Linked DNA regions of Homo sapiens: region 1 is linked to region 2. Evidence: fine-mapped expression QTL. A gene starts in region 2. The other region holds a variant in brackets. All regions are shown on one strand. Distances are from middle to middle. Region 1 has its middle 160 kb from the start of MIR8065. Region 2 holds the start of NAGPA (N-acetylglucosamine-1-phosphodiester alpha-N-acetylglucosaminidase).

Evidence for each region.
Region 1: its variant is fine-mapped to the expression of NAGPA in monocytes after LPS (Fairfax 2014, PIP 0.95).

The regions. Positions count from the first base shown.
Region 1 is chr16:5,793,537-5,796,446 of GRCh38, forward strand. It overlaps a transcript of RBFOX1 not described here. Among named protein-coding and RNA genes, the nearest start is that of MIR8065, 160 kb to the left of the region's middle. RefSeq lists an enhancer at 2,126-2,653. The variant C/A (reference allele first, on the strand shown) is at 1,373.
Region 2 is chr16:5,032,628-5,035,537 of GRCh38, forward strand. It overlaps NAGPA (N-acetylglucosamine-1-phosphodiester alpha-N-acetylglucosaminidase), which reads right to left and starts at 1,308. Exons shown (of 10, transcript NM_016256.4): 1 at 1,202-1,308; 2 at 646-1,101. The coding sequence starts at 1,287. NAGPA-AS1 (NAGPA antisense RNA 1) reads left to right here and starts at 1,075. Exons shown (of 2, transcript NR_038913.1): 1 at 1,075-1,434. RefSeq lists enhancers at 545-1,046, 1,240-1,419.

The sequences.
Region 1 (2,910 bases), 760 kb after region 2:
CCTTCCTGAGAAGAGGTGGGCGTCCCTCCCTCTTCAGCCCCCAGGCCCCTCTCTTCACCTCCTCATCTTACCCACTACTCAAGAGCAGTGCTCACAAAGCAGTGAGGAACCCGGTACTTGCAGGGGATGCTGGAGGGCCCAGACTGGTCACCCCATTGGGAGACTTTCCAGGCTGGGAGGGAGCCTGGATCTATGTACATGTGCCTTCGTGTGTGTGTGTGCATGCATGCATGTGTGTATGTGCATGTGCATGTGTGTGTGAGTGTGCATTGCATGCGTGCATGTGCAAGTGTTCATTTGCACATACTCACAAATGTACTGGGAGACTGGAATCCAGCACGTTCTCCCTGATCCTCACATTATAAACCTGTGTGATCTTGGGTGAGCCATTTAAGCTCTCTGTGCTTCATTTTTTGGGAGAGTTAATATGTAAAATCATGAAACTGCAAGGTGTTGGACAAACCTCTTAACTGATCTGAACTTCACTTTTTTGCATTTCTGTGGTCATTTGTGGTTAAGGGAATGAGCATTTGGAGCCTCGACCTTGACATTTAATTCCAGTACATCTGTGGTGTTGGGCATATGATTTAATCTCTTGGGGCTTTTTCTTTATCCGTAAAGTGAGCACAGTAACAATCTCTAAGTCATGGGGTTATACTGAGCATTGCATGGAAACGTACAGAAAACACTTACAAAATGGTCCTTCTTCCCCTTTCTTTTTCCTTCTCTTCCTCCTCTTTGTTTCCCTCCTTCACCTTCCCTTCCATCTTCACCTTCACCTCCTTTTTTTCCTCATCCTTTACTAATTCCTCGTCCTCTTCCATCATTATTATCATCATTGCCTTCATCTCATTATGAGGCCAAATTCAATTATGTACCTGAAAGCACTGTGTGATCTATAAAATATTACAAACACCAAAATGTCTGTGATACCAGAGGCACACTCACCTTATGTGAAACTCAATGCCAGCGTGCGTGTGTGTGTGTGTGTGTGGTGTGTGCAGCCTTTCAGATTTGCTCATTGGAGAGGTATAGCTGTCGGGCAGGTCAGATGTTGTGTGTCAAGGCATGTGGTGAGCAAAATGAGTTTGCCTGTGGATGGGGGATGCAGCTGGAGGAGTCGGGCGGCCCAGCAGGAGGGGAGCCAAGAAGAACACCTTAATGATGGCTTAAGAAACTTACAAATAAAGCTGAGGTTCCTAATGTTTAATTTCAAGTGACTGAACATTAACATTTAATTAACTCCTGACTGCTAAACCAATATTAAATCTAGGCAGAGGCTAGTGGCATCTCTTATGTATTAGCCGCCAAGAGGCTGCAATCCTACTATGGCGACATTCGGCAAGATGGAAGCTACCCCATCACATGGGAT[C/A]CCAGTCTACACACTGTCTGTGGAATTCCCCAGGCACACACCCACTCTCATCTCACTGGGTCTTGAGAAGGAGTCACATTCAAGCCAACATGCCTTGGCTCAAAATCTAACTTTTCTTCTCCCCAGTTGTATGACTTTGGCCAAGCTGCTTAAATTATTCCATCTCAGTTTCTCATGTGGAGAATGGGAAAAGAAATACCTACCTTATTATATTGTTTCTGTAGATCAGTAGCGATGGATCTGAAACACCTCACGAAAGGCCTAACCCATAAATGTCAAGAAATGATTCTACGTCAGTTTCATATCCCCCCTCTCCCTATTACTATGCCCAGTGACACTTGGTTCCTGTTAAGGACCAAGATCTGTTCCACCTTATTGTCTTCCACTTCTTCCTTCTTCTTTTTTTTTTTCTTGAAACAAGGTCTTACTCTGTTACCCTGGCTGGAGTGCAGTGGCGAGATCATGGCTCATTGCTGTGTCAATCTTCTGGGCTCAAGTGATCCTCCTGCCTCAGCCTCCCGAGTAGTGGGACCACAGGCACCTACCACCGTGCGTGGCTAAATTTTTAATTTTTTGTGGAGATGGGGTATTGCTATGGTTGTGAATTCCTGGGCTCAAACAATCCTCCTGCCTTGGCCTCCCAAAGTGCTAGGATTACAGACATGAACCACTGTGCCTAGCCTGGTCTTCAATATGTTGTTTCCTTGACCTGGAATTCTTTCCCCTCCTTACCCCTGACCACTCTTCTTCCAAATCCTAACTCAAATATCATTTCTTCAAGAAGCCTTCTCTGGCCTCCTAAATAGATCCATTTCCCCCATTATATACATTCATATATCCCTCCTAACTTTTGACTTTAGACCTGGAAGATAAACAATCCCATTCTCCCCTTCTGTTTACATTCATTGGGGAAGGATTTGCTTTTTTTCACTGATTTGCAAAGCCATTAGAGCCTCACAGTCTCTGTTGCATTTTCTAATGACTTAGTTCTTTTGTTTGCTCTACTGGAGATAGGTCGACAACACTCACCAGTTGCATCAATAGTCCCCACCTTTTCAAAGACTTTGGCAGTACAGTTGGGTTTTCCCATTTGCATAGGGCTGTGCAATGCATTGTAGATTTCCATAGCAGTTGAATCTAGTGCATTTTCAGCTTGTAGATTGGGGGAAGGGAGGACTTCTGTCACTTTGTGAAGGCATGGTTGAATTTTGGTGAGCTGTTTTGGAAGGTCATAAGCAGCTCAAGACTGGGCTCAGGAATAGTAAAACCCTGATGTCAAGTGGATCCACCCACTTCTGAGGCTGGGTTCTGAAATGCACAGATCTGGATCTGGAAGGAAGTGGATGTGGCCCACATGGGTGAAATCTGGAGCATGGAAGAAGGAAACATGTTATGGGAAAGAGGCAGTTTTTGCCAAGCTATGGCCACGAGCAAGGAATCAGGAATGAGTTGCTCAATCCAGGATCTGGACCAAATATATCCACAGTGATCAAGTATCCAGGGTTTGTGATATGATCAGTGGCCTCAAAAGCATCACA
Region 2 (2,910 bases):
GGTATCATGCCACTGCCCTCCATCCTGGGCAACAGAGCAAGACTCTGTCTCAAAAAAAAAAAAATCATCAGTCTTGATGAGTTGATGTTTCTGACACCCCACTCCTTTTTCAGTCCCTCATACACACAAGCCCCCCTGAGCCTCTGAGCCTTTGTGCGTGGGGTTCCTTTGGACTGAAACGCTCTTCCTCCAGTTCTGACCTTGGCTCACTTAGTGATTCATCTTCAAGTTCCCACTCAAAGGTCACCTCGGAGAGGCGTGTTCCAGATCACCCTCCCTAAAATCAACACTATTTACAACGGGTTCACCCCGTTGGTTGCTTTGCTGCACACACAGCAATCAGAATGTATGTTAGCTATTTACCCGGCTTTTGTTGATTTTTCTAGTAATGGGGGAGGGCTGTTAAGGCAAAGACTGTGTTGTTCACGGCTATCTCACCGGGGCGCGGCACATTGCCTGATACAAGCAAGTGCTCAATGATACTGGATGATGAATAAACTCTGCAAGGAAGCGATTCCTATCCCCATTCTGCAGAGGAGGAAACAGGGGCTCAGCTTGGTTAAGTGACTTGAACACGGAGGCACGGCTACAACCCAAATCTCAGGCCCTCTGCCCTCGACAGCACGGGGCTCCCTGCCTCCTCACCCGGTGACCAGGGTCCCGTCGCGGCGGATCCCGAACTGCGCGTTCTGCAGCCCCCCGGAGCTGCTCACCCGCCGCTCGTCGCTCACCACGTTCCCCAGGCACTCGCCCGAGTTCATGCGGAAGAAGCCGCCGTTCTGGGCGACACGGCAGTCGGCCGCCCGCGCCGTCTCCTCCACGGTGGCGCGTCGTCTCGCCGCGCAGCCGCCGGGTCCACCGGGCTCCAGCACCGAGAAGGTGCGCAGGGGCTCAACGGCCCGCGTCAGGTGGCCGGCCACCGCGCGGTCCCTGAAGTGCGACACGAAGGTGCGCACGGCCAGACCGCCGGCGCCGGGAGTCGCGGGAGGCGGAGGCCAACTCTCGTGCTCGCGGTTGCCGGCGCGCACCCGTGTGCAGTCCCGGGGGAGGCGCGCGCGCGCGCGTGGATAGGGCAGTAGCAAGTCGTCGTCGCGGGAGGCCCTGCGGGGACGGGCGGCCGTGAGCTCAGGGGGCTGTCCTCGTGAGCTCGGAGGACAGGGGGGACCCCCCGAACCAGGCTGGCCCAGGGAGCTGCACTCACCCCGAGTCGAGGCCGCCGGACGCTTCCCAGAGGAAGCCGAATAGTGCAAGCCGGAGGAGAAGCCAGCGACCCGTGGAGGTCGCCATATTGGACCGGGGCCTCGGGTCATGTGGGCTCGCCTCACGTGACTCAAGTCCCAGGGTGGCCGCTTTCAGCTCGGACTGAATTACCTGCGCTCTTTTCGGCTGGCGGGCTGGCGGGCGGTGCTGGTGATGTTAACTTTTTATCTCCAGGTAATCTCAAACCTACAGGAAGTTGCAAGGAGAGCATAAAGAACTCTCGTAGAACTGTTATTCATGTTTAGCAGTGGTTTAGGCTTGCCTGATTTACTCAATCATTTGTACTTTGTTTTTTTTTTTTCCTGAACCAATGGCAACCAAATTGCAGATGTCATGATCCTTTACCCCATACCTCGCCATGAATCTCCTAAGAACAAGGGCATTTTCTTAACCACAGGGCAAATATCATTAGGACAACTCCCATTGACATTTCTGTGATGTCATCCACAGCTAACCTTCAATTGTCCCTCTAATGTCTTTTTTTTTCTTTTCCTTTTTGTCCGCCCCTGACCCTGTAACCCAGGAGTTGCTTTTAGTTGTCATGTCTCTTTGATCTCTTCATCTGGAAGGCTCCTCAGCCTTTTGTCTTTTACTACCTTGACATTTTTGAAGACAGCCCAGCTACATGATTTGTGTGACTCAATGCAAAATGAAAACGTGGGGACACTTACTAAAAAACCCAGAAAACTATTAAGAATTTCAAGATGGTCAGAGCAAATGGTTGCAGCAAGCCAGGGACCTTCTGAGTGAGCCCATGAAGCTGGCCCTGAGTATAGAAGCCAGTTTATTTTGTAGCATGTACTTCAAGCTTCCTTTGAGAGGATTCTTCTCTTCAGGCCTCCTGTCCCAGTGCAGTGTCCAGGGTTGGGTGGTGTCTTGGTGCCAGTGCAGTGCGTGGGCCATTCCAGGAGCCACGGCAAGTCTAATTGGCTTGATACTGTTGCGGTCTTGCCAGTGCACCTTAATATAGCAGTTTCTCCTTGTCTGAACTAGTCCCGGGGTTCTTTGTCCTACCTCCAAGAAAACTAAGGAGCGTGGACACAAGGGTGGGGTTGGAGCGAACGTTTAATAAGGGAAAGAAGAAAGCTCTCCAAAGTGGAGACGGGAGTCCGAGTGGATTGTCGGGTTACAGCTGAATGCAAAAAGCTTTTTTTTTTTTTTTTTTTAAGACAGAGTTTTGCTCTTGTCACCCAGGCTGGAGTGCAATGGTGCGATCTTGGCTCACTGCAACCTCAACAACCTCTGCCTCCTGGGTTCAAATGATTCTCCTGCCTCAGCCTCCCGAGTAGCTGGGATTACAGGCACACGTCACTGCGCCCTGCTAATTTTTGTATTTTGGGTAGAGACGAAATTTTACCATGTTGGCCAGGCTGGTTTCAAACTCCTGACCTCAGGTGATCCGCCTCCTTCCGCCTCCCAAAGTGCTGGGATTACAGGCGTGAGCCACTGTGCCTGGCCGCAAAAAACTTTTATAGGACACTGCTCTCCTCCTGGTAACTGAGTAACTTCTTACCAGTAAAACTGCCTGTGCAGCTCCCCTTATGTTATGCAGCTGTGGGTATGTCTCTAGGCAAGTGCAAATCGCTGCTTCTCTTGTTTGTGTAACTGTGGGTTTGTTTTAGATAAGGCCCCCTCCTCCCTGTGCCGGTT